Homo sapiens: one gene and its partner. The protein of the gene in region 1 interacts with the protein of each later gene in a biochemical or structural test. Each region holds a gene or a part of one and is shown in the gene's direction. Other genes may lie near its edges. The genes, in order: PPP1R12A and DMPK.

Region 1 (5,306 bases):
TTACTATAAAATGTTCTCCTTTGAAAGTAAAGGACATTAGGGGAGTGAACAGGCAGAGCTGTATTTTATCAAACTCCATATTACCTATAGAAATAATTATGTTTTGAATGTCTTCACAAGTAGCATAGTTAATTGATTACCTCTTACCACACTGTCCTTCATAAAATCTTTATCACATTGTGAATTAATGAACCAGTGCATAGTAAGTATATTGTACCCACAGAATTAGAAGTTCAAGATTTAGATATTTCATTATTAAATTGTTTGGTTTGTTATTAGACCATTATTGAATGGCTTTGAAGATTGGAGACAAATCTTTTGTATTTTGTTTGCTTATGTATTACTTAGTTTGAAATAGAATTTTAGGAATACAGTGTTTACCTTTCTGAATCTCTTGTTCCTTTAAGACGTAATATTTTTAAAAAATTACCTGTGATTACATTCTTATTATACTCTTTTCCATTTTCTTATTTTTTATTCCTATTTCTTTATGTTCTGATTCCTGCAGAACCTGCACCAAATAAAGCAAATTCAATCTCTGAGGGAGTTAAATGAGCGACTGCTGACTGAGAATAGGGCCTTGACAAGAGTGGTAGCCAAGCGCTCAGGGTTCTATAGGCAACTGCAGTCTGTGAACCTATAATTTTTAGTTTCATCATTTCTTCTTGGTAGAGCCAGGCAGGTGTTTTTATATTAGTAGGCGTGTTTTGTAAGAGCTCACTTTTACAAATTAATGCCATTGTGTCTGGAGCATATCATATAACTAATTATGCATGGCTTCTTAGAATGTTAGAAATTGTCACTAATTGTATATTGCAATTGATGAGCTACATTAAAATTAGGGATGATTTTGGAATTTAAGTTAAAGACTTATCTGTACTTTTGTAAAGCTTTTGCACATTTTTTAGCTATACAGATATTTTAGGACTTAAAATATGACTATTATTTACAGTTCTTTACTAGAGAGAAAACCAACAGTATATAACATTTTACATATAATTAATATATTTTGAAGCTGAAGATTAAGCATGCATTATGTTTTTCAAAATAATGTCATTTGAAGTCAGAACCACATTAGTTTATATTTAAGTTTATATTACAAATATTCAAATGAATAAACTTAATATTACTATATTTTATATCTTAAAGATTCTGAACACAGATAAGAACATATTGGTTCCACGTAAAATTAAATCTTCTTAAAGATTTTGCTTTACCTAGTTTTGCAAATAGAAGTTTTACTTTTATCAAGTTAGATAAACTAATACATTTTGAAAACTGAGGAAAGAGGACTATTTTGGAAAGTATGGTTTAGGGACCAAAAATATGAGCTATTTCATTTCCTAGTGAAACTGGCAAAGAACATACAGTTTTAATCATCCTTAGTAGAGTATTCAGTTAACTTGTAATATTTTCACCCCTTCATCAATTTGTCTGTAAAACAACAGAAAATTGAGATGTGTTGTTTGAAGATATGAGGCTATTTGCTTCAAAATTGGTTATTTTTGTAATAGTTGGATCATAGATACAGACTTTCTACTTTAGCTTAAACATGATGCACTATTCTAATAATAGTAATTGCTTGTTACCATTTAATAAGCATCTATCTGGGATCGGACATTGTTTAGGCATTTTAAACTGAGCTACTGTAGGTGAATCGTTTAAGGAATTTTAATAATTTAGAACAAGTCTAATTTCCTCAATGTTTTCCTAGGTAGTTTGACTTTCTTGTGGAACAATATTAAGTATTATGATTTTAGGTCTGACATACATAAAAGCAAAAGTCTTTGGTTTAGGTGCTGACAGGAACCTCTTTTAAGAGCCTATCCTAACAAAAACAGGCTTGTCTTGGCTGCTGGAATGTGGTGTGCTTGTGAGTCATAAAATCAAGTGATTTAGTAAATTTCAATGGAAAATTTGGAGAGAATAAACCTTTCATTCCAGCATTTATGAAACTAATTAGCTTTACAAATCCAGGTGTGGTTTTTTTCCTTCTTCCTGATACATGTTTTAGATACTAGAAATATATATAACTGACAAAGCTTGATCATGTGTTTTGTGGTGAAAATATAACATTTATTAAGAATAATGTTTTATCTTTTAATATTGAAGGTAAAACTTGATCTTCAATTTTTCTCTTTATAGATGTTACCAGACCTAAAAGCAGACAACCAGAGGCTAAAGGATGAAAATGGGGCCTTGATCAGAGTTATAAGCAAACTTTCCAAATAAAAAAAAAAAAAGCAGCAAGTAATGGAATTGCACATATTAGTAACCCAGTGGACCATAATTGGCAGTCACTGGAAGTCTGGGAAGAATCCTTGGAGACTGTCATTTTCGGATATCCTGCCAAATGCCCTCTTATCTAGAATTTTTGTTTCATTTTGTTTAATTTTCTGGGGTGTTTTTGTTGTTGTTGGTTTGTTTTTTGTTTTTTTTTTTTAATCAAGACCATTGTTTCATGTTAATGCAGCTGCTGAGAAGATTTTTTTTTAATGACTGAGAAAACTTGTTTACAGCTCCAGCATATAAGGAAAGTGTTCAAGGCCAGATATGCCTCAGATATTTAACCAGTAAGCCTTAGTTGTACATAAATACTTTTGTGTCAACAAAAACTTTCAGCTCTCACAGAAGACAGTTACTCAACATTTTTTGATGTGCCACAGTTTCGAGTTTTTCGATATTTAAATTTTTTGGCTTTTCATCTAAGTTTGGGTTTGTATTTTTTCCTTCTAAACTCTTCATGTGGCAGAGTCTTCTATGTTTTCACAGCTTTTTCATTACAGAAAAGAACACTTGCTCTTCTGTGATTATTGTCATGTATTAGGCTAATGCTGTGTTGTCTCCCACCTGGAACTGAATTGCTTGGTGGAACATATGCTTTCACTGTTTGTGCAATATGCATTTATTTCTTATATGAATGCTTTAAAGTCATTTGAGGTTAGATCTTTTAATTCCTATTTTCTGCTTCATTGGTCACTTTTTTTTTATTGTAGTATAAGATGTTAGATTCTGTAATCTTCACATTCATTTTAGCAGGTACTGAGTGATGCTGTATATACAAATAAGTGTATTGTTTTGATTTTTAGACCACCACATGGCATGCTTGACTATTTCTTATTTCAAATGTCTGCTAATGCAGAGTAGGCTACTCCATGATAGTGTTAAAAAACAAAATTTGCTAACAATGTGATATAAAGACTTTAAAAGTTACACATTATGTGGAGCCCTATCTTTACAAAAGTTTCCTACTGTAAAGTGCTTTTATTTTCAGTTTTCACTTGATAGTACTCAACCATAATTAAAGTTGCATAAGATAATTGCTTTACATTTCACATACCTATATTTATCTGAGTGCTGTCTAAAACTGTTGTGCTAGCCAAAGTAATGCTATGAAATCATTTGCAGAATTAACCCGTGAGTTAATGTTAAATGCACTGTTATTGCCATGTGAAGAGGCATCGACTTTGATACCACCATCATGTTCAGACCATTTTATACATTTCAGTGGCCTTTTTTTTTTTTTAAGGAAAAAAAAGCGCAAAACCAAGTACATAGTGACGATGGCTTTTATTTGGACAAATAGCTTTTATATTTTCATTAAACCATGCAAAAAATACTACATCTTTCTGGCACATAACTGTCTCCTTAACCACTGAACAGTTCAGCCATTTGAATAAATTGTACATTGTAAAGCTTATAGTAGCTGATTGTATTATTGATTGTATTGTATACTATATTAAATGTGAATTTGTACCCCTTCATTTTAAAAGGTCATTGTGTTCTACTGCCTATTTTAGATTACTTTGGGGTTGGGGAAGGGTGTTTTGGTAAGCAGGATTTTAAGTCCTCTCTCTCTCGATTGGTTTTATGAAGATATAAGGTTATGCTCTTACTACCAAGCTCAGGATTCTTGATTTTAAAGGTACAAGGATAGTTGTGGGAGTTTTATTTTTGGTTATATTTGAACTGTATGAATGGTAGGTCTGAATATTGAGAATTTCCATGGTCTTATGTGGAGGTAAAATATACAGATAACTGATCAGTTTGAGTGACTGCAACATGTTCTGGTTGCACAACAGTTAGGCATGCTATGGTTTATATTTGTGAAGTTTGGATGCCTGTGAAGAATGATTAAATACATGTTTCTAATATTTTAGTGTTTTGTATTTAGGTTATTTATTCTTTGTATCTAAAACTGAACAGCTACTGTGCTATATTGATTTTATTGGTAGTATTGAGCAGACCTTGTTTCTGCATGAAACTAGTTGCAAAACCCACTATTTTGGAAATAAAAATGTATTTTGACATATACAAATAAAATGAATAAAACTATTTTAAATGTGTGAACTTTTAATGAAGACATTTTAAATTTTGTTCTGAGATATTTAAATTCTGCATGGGTATTTTTTCACTAATTGCTTTACTTGGATACCAATTTGAATAATTTCTGAAATTGTAATATTGTGATAATTTGCACAGCATTGTACATGCACATCTGTAAATGCAATCTTAATTGCCATATTTATGCAATCTGTGTACCAATTTGGACAAATGTTTATATATTTTACATAAAGCTGTCTGTATGCAGAATCTGAGAACTAGTTTTTTTATGATAATAAGTGGGTAAAAATTAATAACAGTGAGTTTCAGGGTAGTTGCTTTGTAGCACAAGATTTCGCTTCCATAAACATTGTTTTTTTTTTTTTTCTTAAAGTAAACCTGTGCTTTTTCTTATCTGCAAACATAGGCTTAGCGATACATATAAAGGTAATATTCCATTGAAACATACAGTTTACTTTAATATTAGATCATTTTCCAATTTAGATTTGTCCAAGGTTCGACCTGCTAACACATCTATAAATAAGAGGCACTTTTAGCCAGGCATGGTTGGGAGGCCCAGGCGGGAGGATCACCTGAGGTCAGGGGTTTGAGACCAGCCTGGCCAACAGGGCGAAACCCCGTTTCTACTAAAAATAAAAAATGAGCCAGGTATGATGGTGCAATCGCCTGTAGTCCCAGCTACTCAGGAGGCTGAGACAGGAGAATCACTTGAACCAGGGAGGCAGAGGTTGTAGTGAGCCAAGATTGTGCCACTGCACTTCAGCCTGGGCAACAGAGTGAGACTCCGTCTCAAAAAAAAAAAAAAAAAAAGGCACTTTTGATTTTGGAACTTTGATAGAGGACTGGTAGTAAGCCTAAATTAATACTATTGACTAAATTAATATTGACTAAATTAATACAACAAGGATTGAATTCTATTATTTCTATTTCCAGTACTTCACCTATTCATGCTCAGAATGGTA
Region 2 (8,246 bases), on another chromosome or scaffold:
ACTGGTCTTATGGAAGACAGTTTTTCCACAGACTGTTGGGGGGATGGTTTTGGGATGAAACCGTTCTGCCTCTGATCATCAGGTGTTAGATTCTAATAAGGAGCGCACACCTAGATCCCTCGCATGCATAGTTCATGGTGGGGTTCGCACTCTTACGAGGATTGAATGGTGCGCTGCTCCGGTAGGAGGCTGGGCTCAGGCTGTAATGCCTGCTCGCCCACCACTCACCTCCTGCTGCATGGCCTGGTTCCTAACAGGCCACGGACCACTACTGTTCCATGGCCCGGAGGTTGAGGACCCCGAGATACAGGACAATTCTGTGGCAAGCAGGACTGTCCCCTCGCCAAAGATGGGACATCGAGGCTCCTTGGAGCACCCTGTGGCCACCTTGCAGCAGCCTCTGTTTCCCCATGTTTCCATGACCTGGTGTCCATCTGTCTTCCCCAGTTTGGGAGCTTCTCTCCGAGGAGGACCTGGGCCTGGTGTGGCACCTGCTGTGTGAGCGGGGCCATGTCCAACGGCCTTCTTGGGGACTTTGGGTCGGGGAGAAGTTCTGCCTGGGTTTTACTGCCTTCTCCCAACCCCACACTGTCTCCCCTGGCAGCGGTTGATCGACAAGACCAAGGTGACATATCTGAAGTGGCTGCCTGAGTCGGAGAGCCTGTTCCTGGCATCACACGCCAGTGGCCACCTGTACCTGTACAACGTCAGCCACCCCTGCGCCTCGGCCCCGCCCCAGTACAGCCTGCTGAAGCAGGGCGAGGGCTTCTCTGTCTATGCTGCCAAGAGCAAGGCACCCCGCAACCCGCTGGCCAAGTGGGCGGTGGGTGAGGGGCCCCTCAACGAGTTCGCCTTCTCGCCCGATGGCCGGCACCTGGCCTGTGTGAGCCAGGATGGCTGCCTGCGCGTCTTCCACTTCGACTCCATGCTCCTGCGTGGGCTCATGAAGAGCTACTTTGGGGGCCTGCTGTGTGTGTGCTGGAGCCCTGACGGCCGCTACGTGGTGACGGGTGGCGAAGATGACCTGGTCACCGTGTGGTCCTTCACCGAGGGCCGCGTGGTGGCTCGAGGCCATGGCCACAAGTCCTGGGTCAACGCTGTGGCCTTTGACCCCTACACCACAAGGGCAGAGGAGGCGGCGACAGCAGCCGGTGCTGATGGGGAGCGGAGCGGCGAAGAGGAGGAGGAGGAGCCCGAGGCTGCGGGCACAGGCTCGGCCGGGGGCGCCCCGCTCTCTCCACTGCCCAAGGCTGGCTCCATTACTTACCGCTTTGGCTCGGCGGGCCAGGACACGCAGTTCTGCCTGTGGGACCTCACTGAAGACGTGCTCTACCCGCACCCCCCCCTGGCCCGCACCCGCACCCTCCCTGGCACACCTGGCACCACGCCACCGGCCGCCAGCAGCTCGAGGGGTGGCGAGCCTGGCCCAGGCCCCCTGCCTCGCTCGCTGTCCCGCTCCAACAGTCTCCCGCACCCAGCTGGCGGGGGCAAGGCGGGCGGCCCGGGTGTGGCGGCAGAGCCTGGCACACCATTCAGCATTGGCCGCTTCGCCACGCTCACACTGCAGGAGCGGCGGGACCGGGGGGCAGAGAAGGAGCACAAGCGCTACCACAGCCTGGGCAACATCAGCCGGGGTGGCAGTGGCGGCAGTGGCAGTGGTGGGGAGAAGCCCAGCGGCCCTGTTCCCCGCAGCCGCCTGGACCCCGCCAAGGTGCTGGGCACTGCGCTGTGCCCGCGCATCCACGAGGTGCCCCTGCTGGAGCCCCTTGTGTGCAAGAAGATCGCCCAGGAGCGGCTCACAGTCCTCCTGTTCCTGGAGGACTGCATCATCACTGCCTGCCAGGAGGGCCTCATCTGCACCTGGGCCCGGCCGGGCAAGGCGGTGAGTGGCCCCACACCAGCCTGCCGGGGACCTGGCAGGACCTTTCGTGGGAAGAGGCAGGCATTGGCAGAGAGAGGGCTTTGTTGCTGTCACAGCCTCTGGCTCCGTGGGGTGAGGGGAAGCCAGGGAAATCTTAGTGTCTCAGTACAAGACCTCTCAGATCCTTAGAGTGAGGGGGTCTAGCCCTAGGCAGCAGGCAGCAGAAAGAGGGGTGGGTGTGAGAGCCAGCTAGGAATTGGGGCATCCAAGGCTGGCCGTCTGAAGGGCAGCAGATGGGCCCCACATGGCCAGGTCTTACTGCCTGTCACTCGAACCAGAATCTATTTCTGTTGAACATCTGTTTTTTAAATCGTGAAACTTTTTTGAGTACTTCAGGCCAAAACTAGGGGCGAGCTCAAGCCTGTGGGCATGGCTGCCAGCCTGGGTCTGGGACTCAGGATCTGAGCCTCCTGCTGAAGGCACAGGCTGGGAATCCCAGGCCTGGGTTCCAGTCCCACTCCCTCTGTGACCCTGGACAAGTCACTGCCCCCTCTGACCTCCAACTCATCACCTCTTAGAACAGAGCCTGTAGGATGGGCAGTGGGTGGATGTGCTTGCCTCCTGGGTGGGCTGTGGCGTTGGGAAGGTCATAGTAGGCGAATCAGGCCTGGCATCTTGTAAGTTCGGAGCTCGTCTTGGGTGTCTCAGCTTCTTAGGGCTTGGACTCAGTTGCCCAGGGTCCTGGAGGCCGTGGCTTGGTTCCTCAGATCCTCAGTTTTGGAATCGTAGAGTCCTGAGTCCCTAGAACTTGAGAGCACAGTCTGAGTGACTCAGAGGCAAGAGTGGTGGGATTTGGGGAGTCTGGTTGAGTCCTAAAAGAGACCCCTCTGTCTCCGTAGTTCACAGACGAGGAGACCGAGGCCCAGACAGGGGAAGGAAGTTGGCCCAGGTCACCCAGCAAGTCAGTGGTAGAGGTAGGACTGTCCCTGAGTTCTTTCCCCAGCACCTCAGGGTCCCTCCCAAGTTAGAAGGGAGCTCCAGTTTCCCCCTCCCCTCCCACCCTTACCCTTACCCCATGGTCTCACTCAGGATCCGCCAAGGACTTTGATTATTGCGTGAAAGTGCTGACTGCCAGGACAGGAAGCTAGCTAAGATGCAAGTTCCCAGCCTAGAGCAGTGGCCTCTGGGGGGTCTAGGGCGGACCCAAGGGCAAGGCCAGGGTGGCAGCAGCTTTGGGGACTCTGGGCTGGCTCCCTCCCCTTGACACTGGCTGAAGCCCAGGTGGTCTCTAACCCCTCCCATCTCTCCCTCTCATCTTCCCCAGGGCATCTCCTCCCAACCAGGCAACTCCCCGAGTGGCACAGTGGTGTGAAGCCATGGATATCGGGCCCCCCCAACCCCATGCCCCCAGCCTCCTAGCCATAACCCTCCCTGCTGACCTCACAGATCAACGTATTAACAAGACTAACCATGATGGATGGACTGCTCCAGTCCCCCCACCTGCACAAAATTTGGGGGCCCCCCAGACTGGCCCGGACACGGGCGATGTAATAGCCCTTGTGGCCTCAGCCTTGTCCCCCACCCACTGCCAAGTACAATGACCTCTTCCTCTGAAACATCAGTGTTACCCTCATCCCTGTCCCCAGCATGTGACTGGTCACTCCTGGGGAGAGACTCCCCGCCCCTGCCACAAGAGCCCCAGGTCTGCAGTGTGCCCCTCAGTTGAGTGGGCAGGGCCGGGGGTGGTCCAGCCCTCGCCCGGCCCCCACCCCAGCTGCCCTTGCTATTGTCTGTGCTTTTGAAGAGTGTTAAATTATGGAAGCCCCTCAGGTTCCTCCCTGTCCCGCAGGACCTCTTATTTATACTAAAGTTCCCTGTTTTCTCAGCGGGTCTGTCCCCTTCGGAGGAGATGATGTAGAGGACCTGTGTGTGTACTCTGTGGTTCTAGGCAGTCCGCTTTCCCCAGAGGAGGAGTGCAGGCCTGCTCCCAGCCCAGCGCCTCCCACCCCTTTTCATAGCAGGAAAAGCCGGAGCCCAGGGAGGGAACGGACCTGCGAGTCACACAACTGGTGACCCACACCAGCGGCTGGAGCAGGACCCTCTTGGGGAGAAGAGCATCCTGCCCGCAGCCAGGGCCCCTCATCAAAGTCCTCGGTGTTTTTTAAATTATCAGAACTGCCCAGGACCACGTTTCCCAGGCCCTGCCCAGCTGGGACTCCTCGGTCCTTGCCTCCTAGTTTCTCAGGCCTGGCCCTCTCAAGGCCCAGGCACCCCAGGCCGGTTGGAGGCCCCGACTTCCACTCTGGAGAACCGTCCACCCTGGAAAGAAGAGCTCAGATTCCTCTTGGCTCTCGGAGCCGCAGGGAGTGTGTCTTCCCGCGCCACCCTCCACCCCCCGAAATGTTTCTGTTTCTAATCCCAGCCTGGGCAGGAATGTGGCTCCCCGGCCAGGGGCCAAGGAGCTATTTTGGGGTCTCGTTTGCCCAGGGAGGGCTTGGCTCCACCACTTTCCTCCCCCAGCCTTTGGGCAGCAGGTCACCCCTGTTCAGGCTCTGAGGGTGCCCCCTCCTGGTCCTGTCCTCACCACCCCTTCCCCACCTCCTGGGAAAAAAAAAAAAAAAAAAAAAAAAAGCTGGTATAAAGCAGAGAGCCTGAGGGCTAAATTTAACTGTCCGAGTCGGAATCCATCTCTGAGTCACCCAAGAAGCTGCCCTGGCCTCCCGTCCCCTTCCCAGGCCTCAACCCCTTTCTCCCACCCAGCCCCAACCCCCAGCCCTCACCCCCTAGCCCCCAGTTCTGGAGCTTGTCGGGAGCAAGGGGGTGGTTGCTACTGGGTCACTCAGCCTCAATTGGCCCTGTTTCAGCAATGGGCAGGTTCTTCTTGAAATTCATCACACCTGTGGCTTCCTCTGTGCTCTACCTTTTTATTGGGGTGACAGTGTGACAGCTGAGATTCTCCATGCATTCCCCCTACTCTAGCACTGAAGGGTTCTGAAGGGCCCTGGAAGGAGGGAGCTTGGGGGGCTGGCTTGTGAGGGGTTAAGGCTGGGAGGCGGGAGGGGGGCTGGACCAAGGGGTGGGGAGAAGGGGAGGAGGCCTCGGCCGGCCGCAGAGAGAAGTGGCCAGAGAGGCCCAGGGGACAGCCAGGGACAGGCAGACATGCAGCCAGGGCTCCAGGGCCTGGACAGGGGCTGCCAGGCCCTGTGACAGGAGGACCCCGAGCCCCCGGCCCGGGGAGGGGCCATGGTGCTGCCTGTCCAACATGTCAGCCGAGGTGCGGCTGAGGCGGCTCCAGCAGCTGGTGTTGGACCCGGGCTTCCTGGGGCTGGAGCCCCTGCTCGACCTTCTCCTGGGCGTCCACCAGGAGCTGGGCGCCTCCGAACTGGCCCAGGACAAGTACGTGGCCGACTTCTTGCAGTGGGGTGAGTGCCTACCCTCGGGGCTCCTGCAGATGGGGTGGGGGTGGGGCAGGAGACAGGTCTGGGCACAGAGGCCTGGCTGTTGGGGGGGCAGGATGGCAGGATGGGCATGGGGAGATCCTCCCATCCTGGGGCTCAGAGTGTGGACCTGGGCCCTGGGGCAACATTTCTCTGTCCTATGCCACCACTCTGGAGGGGCAGAGTAAGGTCAGCAGAGGCTAGGGTGGCTGTGACTCAGAGCCATGGCTTAGGAGTCACAGCAGGCTAGGCTGCCAACAGCCTCCCATGGCCTCTCTGCACCCCGCCTCAGGGTCAGGGTCAGGGTCATGCTGGGAGCTCCCTCTCCTAGGACCCTCCCCCCAAAAGTGGGCTCTATGGCCCTCTCCCCTGGTTTCCTGTGGCCTGGGGCAAGCCAGGAGGGCCAGCATGGGGCAGCTGCCAGGGGCGCAGCCGACAGGCAGGTGTTCGGCGCCAGCCTCTCCAGCTGCCCCAACAGGTGCCCAGGCACTGGGAGGGCGGTGACTCACGCGGGCCCTGTGGGAGAACCAGCTTTGCAGACAGGCGCCACCAGTGCCCCCTCCTCTGCGATCCAGGAGGGACAACTTTGGGTTCTTCTGGGTGTGTCTCCTTCTTTTGTAGGTTCTGCACCCACCCCCACCCCCAGCCCCAAAGTCTCGGTTCCTATGAGCCGTGTGGGTCAGCCACCATTCCCGCCACCCCGGGTCCCTGCGTCCTTTAGTTCTCCTGGCCCAGGGCCTCCAACCTTCCAGCTGTCCCACAAAACCCCTTCTTGCAAGGGCTTTCCAGGGCCTGGGGCCAGGGCTGGAAGGAGGATGCTTCCGCTTCTGCCAGCTGCCTTGTCTGCCCACCTCCTCCCCAAGCCCAGGACTCGGGCTCACTGGTCACTGGTTTCTTTCATTCCCAGCACCCTGCCCCTCTGGCCCTCATATGTCTGGCCCTCAGTGACTGGTGTTTGGTTTTTGGCCTGTGTGTAACAAACTGTGTGTGACACTTGTTTCCTGTTTCTCCGCCTTCCCCTGCTTCCTCTTGTGTCCATCTCTTTCTGACCCAGGCCTGGTTCCTTTCCCTCCTCCTCCCATTTCACAGATGGGAAGGTGGAGGCCAAGAAGGGCCAGGCCATTCAGCCTCTGGAAAAACCTTCTCCCAACCTCCCACAGCCCCTAATGACTCTCCTGGCCTCCCTTTAGTAGAGGATGAAGTTGGGTTGGCAGGGTAAACTGAGACCGGGTGGGGTAGGGGTCTGGCGCTCCCGGGAGGAGCACTCCTTTTGTGGCCCGAGCTGCATCTCGCGGCCCCTCCCCTGCCAGGCCTGGGGCGGGGGAGGGGGCCAGGGTTCCTGCTGCCTTAAAAGGGCTCAATGTCTTGGCTCTCTCCTCCCTCCCCCGTCCTCAGCCCTGGCTGGTTCGTCCCTGCTGGCCCACTCTCCCGGAACCCCCCGGAACCCCTCTCTTTCCTCCAGAACCCACTGTCTCCTCTCCTTCCCTCCCCTCCCATACCCATCCCTCTCTCCATCCTGCCTCCACTTCTTCCACCCCCGGGAGTCCAGGCCTCCCTGTCCCCACAGTCCCTGAGCCACAAGCCTCCACCCCAGCTGGTCCCCCACCCAGGCTGCCCAGTTTAACATTCCTAGTCATAGGACCTTGACTTCTGAGAGGCCTGATTGTCATCTGTAAATAAGGGGTAGGACTAAAGCACTCCTCCTGGAGGACTGAGAGATGGGCTGGACCGGAGCACTTGAGTCTGGGATATGTGACCATGCTACCTTTGTCTCCCTGTCCTGTTCCTTCCCCCAGCCCCAAATCCAGGGTTTTCCAAAGTGTGGTTCAAGAACCACCTGCATCTGAATCTAGAGGTACTGGATACAACCCCACGTCTGGGCCGTTACCCAGGACATTCTACATGAGAACGTGGGGGTGGGGCCCTGGCTGCACCTGAACTGTCACCTGGAGTCAGGGTGGAAGGTGGAAGAACTGGGTCTTATTTCCTTCTCCCCTTGTTCTTTAGGGTCTGTCCTTCTGCAGACTCCGTTACCCCACCCTAACCATCCTGCACACCCTTGGAGCCCTCTGGGCCAATGCCCTGTCCCGCAAAGGGCTTCTCAGGCATCTCACCTCTATGGGAGGGCATTTTTGGCCCCCAGAACCTTACACGGTGTTTATGTGGGGAAGCCCCTGGGAAGCAGACAGTCCTAGGGTGAAGCTGAGAGGCAGAGAGAAGGGGAGACAGACAGAGGGTGGGGCTTTCCCCCTTGTCTCCAGTGCCCTTTCTGGTGACCCTCGGTTCTTTTCCCCCACCACCCCCCCAGCGGAGCCCATCGTGGTGAGGCTTAAGGAGGTCCGACTGCAGAGGGACGACTTCGAGATTCTGAAGGTGATCGGACGCGGGGCGTTCAGCGAGGTAAGCCGAACCGGGCGGGAGCCTGACTTGACTCGTGGTGGGCGGGGCATAGGGGTTGGGGCGGGGCCTTAGAAATTGATGAATGACCGAGCCTTAGAACCTAGGGCTGGGCTGGAGGCGGGGCTTGGGACCAATGGGCGTGGTGTGGCAGGTGGGGCGGGGCCACGGCTGGGTGCAGAAGCGGGTGGAGTTGGGTCTGGGCGAGCCCTTTTGTTTTCCCGCCGTCTCCACTCTGTCTCACTATCTCGACCTCAGGTAGCGGTAGTGAAGATGAAGCAGACGGGCCAGGTGTATGCCATGAAGATCATGAACAAGTGGGACATGCTGAAGAGGGGCGAGGTGAGGGGCTGGGCGGACGTGGGGGGCTTTGAGGATCCGCGCCCCGTCTCCGGCTGCAGCTCCTCCGGGTGCCCTGCAGGTGTCGTGCTTCCGTGAGGAGAGGGACGTGTTGGTGAATGGGGACCGGCGGTGGATCACGCAGCTGCACTTCGCCTTCCAGGATGAGAACTACCTGGTGAGCTCCGGGCCGGGGTGACTAGGAAGAGGGA

Evidence for each region.
Region 2: of the proteins of PPP1R12A (region 1) and DMPK, one has a biochemical effect on the other in vitro, tested with the Homo sapiens proteins (one study listed by IntAct).

The regions. Positions count from the first base shown.
Region 1 is NC_000012.12:79,772,855-79,778,160, reverse strand, and holds the end of PPP1R12A (protein phosphatase 1 regulatory subunit 12A), read left to right. Parts: intron 1-2,145; coding exon 2,146-2,232; 3' UTR 2,233-4,593; downstream 4,594-5,306. UniProt on the Homo sapiens protein: Key regulator of protein phosphatase 1C (PPP1C). Mediates binding to myosin. As part of the PPP1C complex, involved in dephosphorylation of PLK1. Capable of inhibiting HIF1AN-dependent suppression of HIF1A activity.
Region 2 is NC_000019.10:45,779,230-45,787,475, reverse strand, and holds the start of DMPK (myotonin-protein kinase), read left to right. Parts: upstream 1-4,985; 5' UTR 4,986-5,104; coding exon of another isoform or gene 5,105-5,123; coding exon 5,124-5,283; exon of another isoform or gene 5,284-7,094; coding exon of another isoform or gene 7,095-7,153; exon of another isoform or gene 7,154-7,416; coding exon of another isoform or gene 7,417-7,606; coding exon 7,607-7,698; intron 7,699-7,856; exon of another isoform or gene 7,857-7,953; coding exon 7,954-8,037; intron 8,038-8,116; coding exon 8,117-8,212; exon of another isoform or gene 8,213-8,246. Other genes in the region: DMWD (dystrophia myotonica WD repeat-containing protein), read left to right, coding at 605-1,882, 2,761-2,835, 3,186-3,233. UniProt on the Homo sapiens protein: Non-receptor serine/threonine protein kinase which is necessary for the maintenance of skeletal muscle structure and function.